Regions from separate parts of the Homo sapiens genome. Here all the other regions are linked to region 3. Evidence: fine-mapped expression QTL. A gene starts in region 3. Each other region holds a variant in brackets. All regions are shown on one strand. Distances are between the middles of the regions. Region 1 overlaps ABR (ABR activator of RhoGEF and GTPase). Region 2 overlaps ABR (ABR activator of RhoGEF and GTPase). Region 3 holds the start of ABR (ABR activator of RhoGEF and GTPase).

What was found. PIP is the estimated chance that this variant, and not a neighbour inherited with it, causes the effect.
Region 1: its variant is fine-mapped to the expression of ABR in nasal epithelium (TOPMed, PIP 0.99).
Region 2: its variant is fine-mapped to the expression of ABR in subcutaneous fat (FUSION, PIP 0.95).

The regions. Positions count from the first base shown.
Region 1 is chr17:1,099,035-1,104,034 of GRCh38, forward strand. It overlaps ABR (ABR activator of RhoGEF and GTPase), which reads right to left. Exons shown (of 23, transcript NM_021962.5): 3 at 1,603-1,701. Among named protein-coding and RNA genes, the nearest start is that of ABR, 78 kb to the right of the region's middle. The variant G/A (reference allele first, on the strand shown) is at 2,678.
Region 2 is chr17:1,108,514-1,113,513 of GRCh38, forward strand. The region is part of intron 2 of ABR (ABR activator of RhoGEF and GTPase); the gene reads right to left. Among named protein-coding and RNA genes, the nearest start is that of ABR, 69 kb to the right of the region's middle. The variant G/A (reference allele first, on the strand shown) is at 1,918.
Region 3 is chr17:1,177,395-1,182,394 of GRCh38, forward strand. ABR (ABR activator of RhoGEF and GTPase) reads right to left here and starts at 2,587. Exons shown (of 23, transcript NM_021962.5): 1 at 2,273-2,587. The coding sequence starts at 2,333. It overlaps ABR-AS1 (ABR antisense RNA 1), which reads left to right and starts at 4,233. Exons shown (of 3, transcript NR_187271.1): 1 at 4,233-4,534; 2 at 4,873-4,917. RefSeq lists an enhancer at 2,628-3,394.

The DNA of each region.
Region 1 (5,000 bases), 78 kb before region 3:
CCTCGGCCTCCCAAAGTGCTGGGATTACAGGTGTCAGCCACTGCACCCAGCCTTTTTTTTTGAGGAATTTCACTTCCGTCGTCCAGTCTGGAGTACAGTGGCGCACTCTCAGCTCACTACGACCTTCGCCCCCAGATTCAAGCAATTCTCATGCCTCAGCCTCCTGAGTAACTGGGATTACAGGTATGCACCACCACGCCTGGCTTTTTTTTGCATTTCTAGCAGAGACAAGGTTTCACCACATTGGCCAGGCTGGTCTCGAACTCCTGTCCTCAAGTGATCTGCCCACCTGGGGCTCCCAAAGTGCTGGGATTACAGGCACTGAGCCACGGCGCCCGGCCTGCACCTGCACATTTACACAGTCATTCCTGGGTAACATAAATGTCAAGTCCCCTGGGACACTGACAGCATCTCAGGGTTGACGTGTGACAACACCTCACGTCATGGCAAGTACTTAAATGTGCATCTTAGAATTCTTGTTAAGAATGAGCTTCCACAGATCCACACTTCTGCGTCTCCCTTTTCTGACAATTACCTTATGTCTCAGGCTGCAAAATACCCAAAAGAAAGATTGACACGCCACGATCACTCTGCATAACATCCAGACACATCTAAGGAGCACTTTCTTCCAAGGCAAAACCACCTCACATCTGTGTAGTACTTTTATCTTCCGAAAACATTTTCATATTCCCCTCCCAATCAGACTCTCACAACGATGCCTCCATCTGGGAGGGGAACTGAGGCATGTTACCGAGGGCTGAGCTTGGCCTGATGCCTCAGAGCTGTGCCGCTTCTCAAAAGAACACAGACAGGCCGGGCGCAGTGGCTCATGCCTGTAATCCCAGCACTTTGGGAGGCCAAGGCGGGCAGATCACCTGAGGTCAGGAGTTGGAAACCAGCCTGGCCAACATGATAAAATCCTGTCTCTACTAAATACAAAAATTAGCCAGGACTGGTGGCGTGCACGTGCAATTCCAGCCACTCGGGAGGCTGAGGCAGGAGAATCACTTGAACCCGGGAGGCAGAGGTTGCAGTGAGCCGAGATCGCACCACTGCACTCCAGCCTGGGTGACAAGAGCAAAGCTCCGTCTTAAAAAAAAAAAAAAAAAAAAAAAGAACACAGCCTCCCACCTCATATTTCCTGACACGGGGCCTCAGGATGGCACTAACGGTTCCCTCACCCAGGGAGGTAGAAGGACTTGGACACAAGACGGCAGAGACTTCTTAACTGGATTGATTGGGAATGACTGCCCAGAGCACAGCGTGGAGAAGGCGCTCGGCCCCCGCCCAGGCAGGCAGAGCACCATGATGGGTTCACGATGCCCTATGCCAGGGTCGTGGGTGACAGGTGTGTTTGCCATCTCTAAGCCGGGTGTGCTTCTCCTGCCTTTTGAGAGCTGGAGCTGAGAGGCACAGGCCCTTTCTGGCAATGACCCGGGCTGCCCGATGCCCAGCCAGAAGCAGACCAGCTGCAGACTCTGTCCACAGGGAGGGACGGGTACGGTCCCCTTTCCTCTCCAACTCCAAAAGCAGCTTCAGAGCATGACATCACCCAACACGGGCGGGGGGACCGGAAGGCCCCAGAGCAGGGACTGTACTCACCAGCAACAGGGCTTCCAGCTGGTTAATGTAGATCTCTTCGCTGGCCAAGAACCCCGAGAGAACCAGCTTCCTCATCTCCAGGCCTTTCCCTGCTTCCACCTGCACAAACGCAAAGCACAGCCAACAGCTCATGAGCAAGGAGGCCAAAACCCTGCGTGGACGGTCTGCTTCCCTGCCCTTCCCCCCCGACCTTTATTTTTTTTTTGAGACGAAGTCTCGCTCTGTCACCTAGGCTGAAGTAAAGTGGCACAATCTCGGCTCACTGCAACCTCCGCCTCCCGGGTTCCAGTGATTCCCCTGCCTCAGCCTCCCGAGTAGCTGGGATTACAGGCACCTGCCACCATGCCCAGATAATTTTTGTATTTTTAGTAGAGATGGGGTTTCACCATGTTGGCCAGGCTGATATAGAACTCCTGACCTCAGGTGATCCACCCACCTCAGCCTCCCAAAGTGCTGGGATTACAGGTGTGAGCCACCATGCCCAGCCATTATGCCAGACTAATTTTTTTTGTATTTTTAGTAGAGATGGGGTTTCACCATGTTGGCCAGGCTGGTATAGAACTCCTGACCTCAGGTGATCCGTCCGCCTCAGCCTCCCAAAGTGCTGGGATTACAGGCGTGAGCCACCGCGCCCGGCCCCCCTTTCCCCTTTCCTTTTATTTTAAGCGACACTTTCATAGGGGATAAAAGTCAGATATTATTATAAAAAATATACAAAACATGCAGAAATATAAAAGGAAAAGACAATCACCCATATTCCTCCTGTAACATCTCGTTTTGCTTCCCTCAATCTATTTTCCACCTGGGTTCTCGAACCGACTTTTCCTCCCTCTCTTCCTCTCCTCCTGCCTGTCCCACACACCAGAGCTGGATTCAACTCCTAAGAGTGCCACCTTGCCCGATGCTTGCCAAGGACCGAGTATGAATACCGCAAAACGCGAGTACTTGGGGATTCCACTGGGCTATGTGTCCATTTATTTATTCATTCAATAAATATTTACTGAATGTCCACCAGGCCCTATAGATACCATGGGAAACAGACAGTGGCCCCTGTTCTCAAGTGGCTTAGACTCTA[G/A]TGGGAAAGACATTTATTTTTTCTTTTTTTTTTTTTTTTAGAGACGGAGTCTCGCTCTGTCGCCCAGGCTAGAGTGCAGTGGCGCGATCTCGGCTCACTGCAAGCTCCGCCTCCCGGGTTCACGCCATTCTCCTGCCTCAGCCTCCCGAGTAGCTGGGACTACAGGCTCCCGCCACCACGCCCAGCTAACTTTTTGTATTTTTAGTAGAGCCGGGATTTCACCGTGTTAGCCAGGATGGTCTCGATCTCCTGACCTCGTGATCCGCCCGCCTTGGCCTCCCAAAGTGCTGGGATTACAGGTGTGAGCCACCGCACCCTGCCGGAAAGACATTTAAAAAACAAGTAAAGATTCGGCCCTAGACTGGGACATGGGGCCCACCATATCCTTTATGAGCCACCTGCAGTGGCCCGGATGCCCGTCCCTACCCTTCCAGTCTTTCCCACAGCCAGGACATCGCTCAGTCTCCCCCACACGCAGGAGAACCAGCCTCCTCATCTTCAAAGGTCTCTAGCTTTCGGTTCGTTCTTTACCTGCTGCCTAAAATGCCATCTTTCCCTGAGGCATCGTGGCCACAGAAGGGGAGTGAGAGGGCCGGGGAGACAGGGTAGTGGTGAGGGACTGCTTGGAAGATGCTACACTGGTAGGTTTGAAGACAGAGGATGGGGCCACGAGCTAAGGAATGCAGAGAGCCTTTGGAAGCTGGAAATGGCAATAAAATGAACTCACTCCCCTAGAGCAGGGGCTTCCGATCTTTTGGCTCCCCTGAGCCACACTGGAAGAAGACGACTGTCTTGGGCCACACATAAAATACAATAACACTAACGACAGCAGATGAACTAAAAGAAAAATATATAATGTTTTAAGAGTTTACAAATTTGTGTCGGGCCACATTCAAAGCAGTCCTGGGCCGTATGGCCGCAGGCTGGAAAAGCTTGCCCTAGAGCTTCCAGAAGCAATGCAGCCCTGGAGATCCTTTTTATTTTAATTAATCTATTTATTTATGTATTTACTTATTGAGACAAAGTCTCCCTCTGTCGCCCAGGGCTGGAGTGCAATGGCATGATCTCAGCTCACTGCAACCTCTGCCTCCCAGGTTCAAGCGATTCTCCTGCCTCAGCCTCCCGAGTACCTGGGATTACAGGCGTCCACCATCACACCCACTAATTTTTGTATTTTTAGTAGAGATGGGGTTTCACCATGTTGGCCAGGCTCGTCTCAAACTCCTGACCTCAGGTGATGCGCCCGCCTCGGCCTCCCAAAGTGCTGGGATTACAGGTGTGAGCCATGGAGCCGGGCCGAGATCCTTTTTAGATTTCTGTATAAGAGAATAAATTTGTGTGGTTTTAAGCCCTTAAGTTTGTGGCGATTTGTTTCAGCAGCATTAGAAAAGCAAGACAGACCCCACGCTTCAGGCAAGGGCAATAGTTACTTATTGGCGGCTTCACAAATTCCAGGAACTGAGCTTAGCTATCTTTGTGGTTCAATTCACCGGAGTCTCAAAACCTGGCAGGTGTTATCATCTTCCTGAGGCACCGAGAGTCGGGACTGCCAGAGGCCTGCACAGCCTCCAGCACACGTAGCCCCGGGGGACAAGATCAGAGCCTGGAACAGCCCCCAGCTCCAGCCCCTCCAGGTCAGACCCTCAGGGGTCTTCCTGCTGCTTCCCAGCCTTGACAAATGGGAACTCATCCCCTGTGCTGGGGGCTAGCACTCCCTCCTGTTCCCTGCCAACCAAGGTTTTGCCTGAGGGTTTAGCAAATGCCACACCGTGAGCTGTAACTGTAGAGCTGGTTGGACTAGGATGGGGGGAAGAAAGGGATTTGCAGCCCCAGCCACAAACAAGCTTCATCCCCCCTGGCACGAGCATAGACCCTGGAAGCCCTGTAATCGCCCATTTCTGCAAGATCCTCCCCTCAAGACTTCCATTCATAGTCCACTCTTGAAAGGCTGGTTCTGATGGGAAGACAACTCAGGAAGACCCTCCCTCAAGAGGCAACAGTCAGCCCCAAGAGTCCTGCTCTGGGCCCCGTTCACGCTGCAGTTTTGGCTGAGATTGGAGCAAAGGCGTTGGAGAGCGTACGGATGGGAAATTAGCCTCGGTGCACTTGGCTAACAGGAGACCCGTTGCTCAGTCACCACCAAAGGAAGGCCTGTTCCATCTCCCATCTTTTCCAGCTTTCCTCAGACTCCACAATTCCCAGTTTAGAGCCATGAGGAAATTCACATTGTTTCTTCAGTCTTTGCAGGGCGTCTCTTGTCTCATCAAAAACCAGGCTCACCACTCACTCACCCATTCCCACCGGGAGCCAGGCACTGGGAATA
Region 2 (5,000 bases), 69 kb before region 3:
TGGCTCTTGCCCTTTGCAAACACCCTCTTGCCTCAGCTCGGAGACACCAAGTCCCTGTCTCCTGGCTGGGAAGAGGGTGGCCCCTCTCTTGCGGTTGCCGTGGAAACGGGGGATTCCTGCCCACCCGCTCCAGGGAGGCGGCGAGGCTCGGGCTGACAGGCGCGCCAGGTGACTCCTGGCACAGCCGCCGGAGCCCTGAGCTGGGCTGGCCTGGAGGGGGCGGCCACCACTGCCCCGAGGACACCGGTCGGGGAGGCAGGCCCGCCCCTCTCCCCCGGGAACAGCTGCCGGGGCCGGGACCCTCCGCCGAGGGCTTCCACCCGGCCGCGCGCTCTGCGCCCGCATCAGCCATTTCTCCCGCGCACCTTCGGCAGCGCCGGCCCGGCCCCCCCCAGCGCCCAGGGCGTGTCACGCTCCCACCTTCACAGCCACCAGGAAGGGGGACCCTGAGCCGGGGCTGGTCGGGGTTCCCAGCTCGCACTCCTCCAGGAGAAACACATCTTCGTCCTCCAGAACCTTGTCCAGCAAGCCTATCGCCTCCTCTTCCTCCTCCATGGCAGCCGGAGCCCGCGGAGGGCAGACAGGAAGCGGGGTCCACGCAGCGGCGGCGGGAGGAGGGAGGAGGGAGGAGGCGGGCGGGAGGGGGGGCAGGTCTACACCCGCGCGCCCGGCCTGGGGCTCCCGACCCGGGACTGCATCCCGGACCTAGTCCAGCCCGCTCCGCCGCCGCCGCCGCCGCCTCGCGCGTCCTCGCCCGGCGAAAGGGGGAGCAAGGCCCGGGCAGCCCCTGACGCCGTGCCCGGCCCGTGGCGGAGGCGAACCCGCCGCACAGCAGCCCAGCGCCCTCCTCCGTGTCCCGCCCGGCCCCGCAGGGCCCGCCCTTCCCGGGCTCCGGGGCTCGGGCTCGCGCTCGCTCCGAACACACAGGAAACGCGCGTCGCGAGGTGGAGCCGCCCGTCCTCTGGGGTTGCGGGGCCGCGGCTGGCGGAGGCTTCTGCGGCGGAGGAGGAGCGAGGAGGCCGCGGCCGGGCCGGGGTGGGGTGGAGCGGGGAGGCCGCTTCCCAGACGCATCTTCATTCCCCGCGCGCGGCCGAGCCAGGAGCCCGGCGAGCAGGGGCGACCCCCAGAGCCACCCCGGAGTCCCCATGCGCCGGAGCCCCCTTCCGGAGGGGAGGCCCCGGCCCGCCCAGAAGCCACAGCCGCGTCCCGCCGCCGCTGGAGGAGTCAGGCTTTGCAACAGACAGGCCTGACCTGCCCCCAGGCAGGAGCGCGGCGCCACCACTGTCCTGCACAGGAGCGGTGGGCGTCCCACTCACAGGGACCAGGATCCCCCTCCTCCAAGCAGCCCCCCTCCTCCGAGCAGTCCCCCCACTCACGGACGCTACTGACACCAGCACCCCCACCTCCTCTGAGCAGCCCCCCCACTCACAGACCAGCCCCCCTACTCACAGGCGCTGCAGAGACCAGGACCCCCACCTCCTCTGAGCAGCCTCCCACCTACTCACAGGCACTGCTGAGACCAGCACCCCCACCTCCTCCAAGCAGCCCCCCCAGCCACCCCACCGCAGGGAGCCATCCTGCAAGGGGAGTGCACACAGAACCCAGGACAGGCACCATCTCCGGCCCTGCCCACTCCCAGCCAGCTTCCCCTGGCTTCTCCAATGGTTGCAGAACCCCCAACTGTGCAGGGAGTGAGGCCACATTCTGGTCCCCCTGGCCCTAGTTCCCAGATGCACATACACCTCCTTCCATGGGAGGAGGAGTCCAGAGGAGGCCCTGGGAAAAGCTCTTTTACAACCCAACGATGGAGCAAAGGTTGCAAACGGCACCCATGAGGGTGCGGGTGAGGCCTGCGGGTGAGGCCAGCCGGTGAAGCGAGCCAGGTAGGGCAGGGTGAAACCACCACTCACTCCAGCC[G/A]ATGGCTGCTGGAGGAAACGCAAGCTCATGGCTGCCTGATCTCTGTTCAAAATAAGCTAAAATCTGGCTTATTAACAGGAATGCTCCTGATTTTAAAACGATGGCAAATAATTAACATTTTAAAACAACATGGTGCCGTCTAAATGAACCACACCTGTGGCCCGAGTTCAGGCCACAGCCCCCCACTCCCCCCAGAATTCTTCAGAAGCTCTGGGCTCTAGGTGGGGCTCATGCAATTCCATTGGCAGCAGAGAAGCTGCCCTCCCTGGAGAGAGGCTCCATCCTGTTGCAGAGCTGAAATACAGAGCAGGGGATTGCGGGGTGAGCCCTTGAGGGGCCCCAGGGCTAACAGCCTTTGATCAGGGAACTGTGCCACCAGGGTTCAACAGAGGCACACCCCCACCCCACCCATCTCCTTCCAGCCCCTGGTTTTCCCCTGTCCCTGCCTGGGTGGGTTATAAATAGCCAGGGCGCATCTGAAGGGCCCTTTCAGCCACAATTCCTCATTTGGTGCGGGCGGGTGAGGCTGTGGCGAGGGCTTGGGAACGACCAGGCCTGGCATTCCCCAGGGCACAAGTATGCCAGCTCAGGGCCTGGTACCACGGGTTCTTCTGTCTCCCGCCCGGCGGGCTCCAAGTGCATGGCATGGGCTGCCCACATGAGTCAGACCTGCAGGTGACACGAAGAAGGGCCTAAAACCCCACAGGCCCCTGCTGTGTTCCTTCCTCCACTCAAGAGGACATGAGGTGCCCTTGGAAGTCTGCCAGGATATCCTCGTCCCCGTTCCCCACACCTCTACACGGCATGGTGAGACTGACGCCCACTTCTTCCCAAAATCCCTGAACCCCACACAAGTGACTCCCTGAGTATCCAGGGCCTCTCTACTCCACCCTGTCCCCGGTGGCTGGAAATTCCAGTGAGTAATGAGAGTGCCCCTCCATCAGACACAGACTCCACTCACAGGCCCTCGGTGCCCCCCTGGAGGGGAAGTGACTCACCAGTCCCCACAGCTTCCCTCCCCTTCCCTGACAAATGCCCTGAGCCAGCCCTGGACCTGAGCTCCACACTCCATCTGCCTCGGCCTGGCTCCTAATGTTCTCCATAGAAGCAGCCTGCTTCAAAGGCCCCCCCAAACGGTTTATTCCAAAGCCAGAGGCCTCCCTCTCCGACTCTTTGGCCTCTGCAGTCTAGAGTTTCTCCAAGCCCTCAGCTGCCCTGTTGATGCAGGCACTGCCCCGACCACTCTCTGGTGTAGGCTGGCCCTTCATTCTCCCGCCTCCTGTAAATGTGGAGTCACTTGCTTGGGCCCAGCCTCAGCCCTCTGCTCCCTTCCCCCAGAGAAGCAGCCCTTCTCCCTTCCAGGCCAGTGGTGGCCCGCTGCCAGCTGCAGCCCTGGTGTCTTGCTGGGCTCTAGGTCTAGCACCTGCCCCGGCCACTGGGTCTCCTCACTTGGAAGCCCAGCCACGGCCCTTCCACTCCACACATCTGGACCAAAGGACCCTTCCTCCTTCTGAAACAGCTTCCCCTTCCGGGTTTCCACTTCTGTTAGTGCGGCCGCCATCTTACGAGTCTTCCTTCCCTCAACCCCCACATCCCTTTTACCAAGTCCTTCGGTTCTTCTTTTCCTTTGCCAAAGCCACCACCCCACCAAGCTTTAGAGCCTCTTACACCCACACGACCACACGTACTTCCCCACTTTGGCTCCTGATCTTGTCTGTCCATCTGTCTGTTCATTCATTCATTCATACCCAGAAAAGGCCTGGCATGGCACACATACGAGGCTGGGAGACGGGGCCCTTGCCGTTCTCAGGCTCTCGATCCGTCTGGGGTGAGGACGTGTGAACACACGAGGCAGTGTTCTCGTTTACCAGCCACCCTGGGGATGGAGGACAGTGGCACTAACGCTGCCTGAGAGTGAAAGCTTCACAGGACAGTGGCTTCTGAGTAGCATCTGGAAATAGGGAAGGGTTTCCAGGCAAAGAAGAGAAGGCCCGAAAGGAAAGGGTTAAGCAGCTTCAGCAACCCGGTTGCAGTGGCGCACCTGAAATCTCAGGTACTCAGGAGGCTGAGGTGGGAGGATCGTTTGAGCTCAAGAGTTGGAGGCTGCAATGAGCTATGATCGCACCACTGCACTCCAGCCTGGGCAACAGAGCCAGACTCTGTCTTGAGGGAGGGAGGGAGGGAGGAAGGAAGGAAGGAAGAGAGGAAGGAAGGCAGGTTAAGAAGCGCTGCTTGCTAGAGGACAGAAGATGAACTTGGAGAAGTGGGCTGAACAGCATCATGGAGGGTGAGGGGCATAAGCACACACCACACCTAGCTACTGTTTGAAATCTTTCGCAGCCACTGAGATTTCTGACACCATCAAGTCTAAATCTCAGTCTCCAATGGTTGACTCCCCACAGTCTTCCCCCACACCCACCCTCCATTCCCTCCTTCCCTGACCCAATCAGCAAGCATTTGTTAACGCCTGACCCAATCAGCAAGCATTTGTTAACGCCTGACCCAATCAGCAAGCATTTGTTAACCACCTGACCCAATCAGCAAGCATTTGTTAACGCCTGACCCAATCAGCAAGCAGTTGTTAACCGCCTGACCCAATCAGCAAGCATTTGTTAGCCGCCTGCTGTGCACCAGGCAGTGTGCTAGCATCGGAATGCAGCCATGGACAGGGAACCCCGTGCCTACCCTCGCGGAGCTGACAGTCTCAGGGACAGATTGACCTGGTGACTGACTCCCAAGGCAGTGTCAAGGGAGGGGCAAGGCCGTACTGGGGAGGGGAGCAGTGTCAGAACTCTGCAGCTGAGGTGCCACTTTTCTGGAAGGGATAACATGGAAACACCTATTGCGATTTTTTTTTTTTTTTTTTTTTTTTTTGAGACGGAGTCTCGCTCTGTCACCCAGGCTGGAGTGCAGTGGCATGATCTCAGCTCACTGCAACCTCCGCCTCCTCGGTTCAACCCATTCTTTCGCCTCAGCCTCCCAAGTAGCTGGGATTACAGGAACCCGCCACCAGGCCCGGCTAATTTTTGTATTTTTAGTAGAGATGGGGTTTCATCATGTTGGCCAGGCTGGTCTCGAACCCC
Region 3 (5,000 bases):
GGAGCCGCCCAGAGGCCAGGGCAGCAGCAGGAGGGTAGACAGCTCAGGTGCCAATCTGCCTGAATCAGGGCTGCCCAACAGAACCCCCTAAGAGGCCTTGGCCTAATTCCCTTTTCTGGCATTCCTCTGGTCAGGAATTTTCAAGGTGGCCTCAGGCAATTTTGCTTTTTTGCTCCAGGCGTGGGAGGAAGAGGGTGGGGTATGGAAGACTTGGAAATGATCAGCTCAGAGGAGTCTTCTGCTGCAGAGAAAGCTAGAGACAGGGTTCCATACGATTCCAGGCTTCGGGAAATAGGGAAACAAGAACTGGGTTTTGCAAAGAGCCAGAAACACTCAGGAACATAAGCACGCGTGAATCTGAGGCATTGTTATGACGGCTGTTTGCAAGCACACAGCTAAGAGAGGGCCACTAATCCTGCCTCCGGGTCAGGAGCTGATCTGCATCTGCGCTCCGAACAGATGTGTGCCCCCATTCATGCAGACGCACGTGCACGCACATGCCACACAGCCATGGGCCCTGACCTTCACCCAACGACGCTGGCCTCTGCAGGGGAAGGAGCAGATGGAGCGGCGGCACCTGGCACAGGACCTATGCCCAGGGGATCCGGCTTTGCCCCTTTGATGTTGAGAAACCAAAGCAGAATGAACCATCACAAGGACAGCTCCTGGGGGGAGGAGAGGAAGGAACATGGATGGAGGAGGAGGCGGGTGGAGAAGAAGATACAGGGAATGACCTGGACCCAAGGGGATGCTGAGGTCAGAGGTTGAATGTTGGGTACCACACAGCCTCCAGAGTAAGGCTTTGGGGCTCAAGGCATCACCCTTCTCTACTCCCCCCACCCCCCCCATATGACTTATCAAGGAACTCTAGCTGGGATGACCCTTACAAATGCCCTTGTTGGCTCACGCCTGTAATCCCAGCACTTTGGGAGGCTGAGGCAGGTGGATCACCTGAGGTCAGGAGTTTGAGACCAGCCTGGCCTCATGGTGAAACCCCATCTCTACTAAAAATACAAAAAATTAGCCGAGAGTGGTGGTGGGTACCTGTAATCCCAGCTACTCAGGAGGCTGAGGCGGGAGAATCACTTGAACCCGGGAGGCAGAGGTTGCAATGAGCGGAGATTGCGCCACTGCACTCCAGCCTGGGCGACAGAGCCGAGACTCCGTCTCAAAAAAAAAAAAAAAGAAAGAAAACGCTCCTGTTCCATGGCATCCAGTGCCTAGAATCAGGCTGAACCAGGCTCCACGTGGCCCCACGTGCCTCCCCCAACTCCTGCCTGGGAGATGTGCTGAGAGAGTGGGAGGGTCCCACTCACGTGGGCCAGGAAGGGCGAAATCCACTATGTAAGCCCAGGAGGACCCTCTTCCTAATCCCTGAGAGCTTTCGGGAAAGGTGTCTCAGGGAAGGGTGGGGAGAAGGGGCGGTGCCTTTCTAGCAACGGAGCAGGAGCAAGGTGCGGTGGTGGGGGCGGGGGGCGGCTCTCGGTTCGCCCCAAGCCCCCCCACACCATTACCCGTGATCAGTTACGCATCCCCCGGGGCCATGCAAGAGCAATCACATGATCCAGAGAGATTTGGGAGCGAGGGGGTGGAGAACTCGAGAAGGTTTGTTTTTTTTTTCTTCTGAGGGTGGTGGTGATGATGAGGGTGGGGGTGGTGATGAGGCTGGCAGGAAAGATTGCTGAGCCCGGGATTTTCAGCTCCCGCATCCAAACGGCCCCCGCGGATATCTGCACCCCCCGTCTCCCCTCCCACCCGATCCCACCCCAGCACCGAACCCCTGGGCCCTGAACCACACATGACCCGGTGCCCCTGGGGTGGCAAACTCGGGTGCCAACGACTGCTCCCAAAACGGCCTTTCGGCTTCAGCCTGGACAGAGAAGCTGCCGGTCCAGGGGCGGGGGCAGCACCCAGAAGGGCCTCCCTCCCCTGAGGCTCGCGGAGGCCGGGTTCACAACAGGTGGGAGGGGGGACGCAGCTCTCGGCTCGGTCCGCCCACGGTCCCCGCCCCCGGACCGCAGGAATCCTCTCTGGGGACCCCCCGCCCGCGCCCCCCAGACCAGCCCGGCTCCTGGGTCCCGACCCCGATCCCGATTCCCAACCCGACCCCGATCCGGACCCCGATCTCGCCCCCGCCCGCGCTCCCCGGACCAGCCCGGTGCCTGGGTCCCGATCCCGATCTTGGGGTCCCGATCCCGATCCTGGGGTCCCGATCTCCATCCTGGGGTCCCGATCCCGATCCTGGGGTCCCGCCCCCGCCCGGCACACGTACTGCTGTAGAGGGTGTCGATCCAGGACAGGCGCGGCAGGCCCCGGTGGCTGAGCGGCTCCATCCCGCGGCGGCGGCTCGGTCAGATCCGAAACCCGACCCTCATCGCGCAACAAAGGAGGGAGAGCGGGCGGGAGCCGGGGGAGGCCGAAGTTGCGAGCGCGGAGGGGCGAGGAGGCCGGGAACCAGGTCCCCGGGAGGAGCGCGGGGCGGCCGGGGCAGGGGCGAGGGCGGGGCGGGAGCCCCCAAAACCCTCCCGAACCCTCCCGGCCCCAGCGGCCGCGCCGAGCCCAGCTGCGGATCCCGGAACCGATGAGCAACTTCGCGGGGGGCGGGGCGGGGGTGGGGCTTCGTGGTGGGGCGGGGCTTTGGTGCGGGGGCGGGGCTTTGGTGCGGGGGCGGGGCGGGGAGGGACCAATCGGCTCGAGGCTCCGCCCTCCGCAGGACGCCCCCGGCCGGGCTAAGGGGGCAGCGGGGCTCCGGCGCTGGGCGAGGAGGGGCCGCGGGGGTCTCGGGGGGTCTCCAGGCGGCGGCGCAGACCCAGGTCCCCCTCGTCCCCCCCGCGCCGGGCTCAGCAGGATCCTGGCGATCCGCAAACCAGGTGCCGTGGGGGGCCCGGGAGCCCACAGGGGTGACATCACCTCCCGCCCGGGATCTCCAAGCGCGGCTTCGCGGGCGGGAGCGGCGGCCGGGCCCCTCCCCAGCCAGACCCGCTGCGGGACCCACGGGGTGAACGTCCTGCGCGCCGCGGGACGCGCCTCTCTCCTCCCGAACCTTCCCCCGCTCGTCCCTTTCCACACCCCTGACCTCTGAGCGCGGCCGTTCCCGCCACACATGGAGGGGGGCGGGTGGAGACCCGGGAGGACCGAAGTCACGGGGGCTGTGGGGCCAGGACAGTCCCACATGTGCCCCTCCTGGGCGGAGGACAAACTGGAGCCAGGAGAAGCCCCAAGGGCTCCACGCGTTCCCCTCCAGGACCCCTCCTGGGGACCCCGAGCCGCGGCCTGGAAAGCCCATCGTGTTTGCATCATCACCTAGAAATGGTGGGAAGTCGGGTCAAGAGGCCTGAGAAATGACCGTTTAGAGACGAAATTCCCTCTAAGGAAGACCCCCTCGCCCAAGGGCAGTGAAGAGATTGGGGGCCCCATGCCTGTCTCCTGTGGGCTGATTCTGTGGGAGCCATGGCAGCTTCCCCACAGACCTCTTTGGGCCAAGCGACCCTGGAGCAGGGAAGGACAGGAGGGGAGTCAGGCCAGGGGGGTCCAGGGCAGTGGGGCTGAAGCCCCTTCCTGAACCCAGGGAAAGGGAAGCAGTGGGGCCCACCCAGGGGGCCCGGTACCCCAGATAGTGACATTTCAGATACCGGAGCTGTCTCCACCCCACCCCATCCCCAGGCAGCTTAAGGGGAAAACTTCTGGGAGCCCAGCCCTACAGAGGCCTACCAGGAAGGTTAAGTCAGCCTGGCCTTTGCCGGGGGCAGTGTGGTCGGCACCCGCAGAACGCTGGAGGGGTGTGGGGGTCGGTCCTCATCACTCCAAACAGACACACACACATCTAGTTCTTAAGGGGAGAAGCAGCTCCTCCCCCAGGATGCTGAGAGGAAGCCCCATAAGCTGCTTGGGCAGAGGCCTCTGCAGCTGCCCCAGGGGAGATGGGGGTCACCCACTCATCACAGGCTGGGGAGCCCCTGGGAGACGCACAGGATGATGCTCTGGGTGGGGAAGCCTCTACAGGTGGCTGCAGCAGAAGTGGTTTTCAATATTATTAGCCCGTCCCTGCGTCCCCAGGGCTCCCTCCGCCCCAATCCTCCTGGCTCAGGCACCAGCGCTGTCTCTTGCCGCCCCTCCCTGCAGCTGTCACCCTCCCACCGTCCCTGACTAGCACACAGGATTGGGAGGGCCAAGCAGGCACCTGGAGCTTGGCAGGGAGGGGGCGTGCATCTCCAATGAGACGCTCCAGAAATAGAGCTTCGGCATGGGAAGGGAACGAGCAGGCTCTCGGAGGACCGCGAGGCCGGAGGAGCCATGAGGGGCCAAGGGCATCTCTTCTTCCCACCTGGAACTCTCGGAAGACAGCCCAGGGGAAAGGTGGAAACGGGCGTGAGCTGCCGCCACCAGGAGCCACCAGCCCAGGAGGCAGCAGCACCGTCCCCTCCTCAAAACAACAACAAGCAAGAACGCTCGGGCCCTCTCCCCACACTGTGGGGTTTTCCTGATGGCCACATCCGGCGCTGACTGTGAGGGAGCTATGGATGTATGCTTCTGCGTGAGTCACATACATTTGCGTACATTTTACATTTTTATCTACAAAGGCTTGAACAAGCTATTTTCAGCATCCTCCAAGCTAAAATGTGGCAGTTGCTTTCCTTCGCGTTGCCATAGTTTGCTTTTTTCTGTCTACATTCTGTCCAATCCTGGCACTCTCGGACCCTCCACTCCACAACACGATAGAGGGTAGAGGGAGAGACAAATCTTGAGGGCTCTACAGAGGAAACTTCTGATAACGAACACAGAACACCGACTGTGTGCCCGGCTTAGCGTTTCGTTCACTAGCGTGATCTCACCGTGAATGTCACTGTTATCTCTGTTTTCTCCATTTTCCAGGTCAGAAAACCGAGGCCCTGAGCAGCTGAGTAACCCACTCAGAGGGTAAGTGAGGGCTGGGACTTGAACCCTGGCACTCTGTTCATGCTCTTTTTCTGTTTGTTTGTTTGTTTGTTTTTGAGACAGAG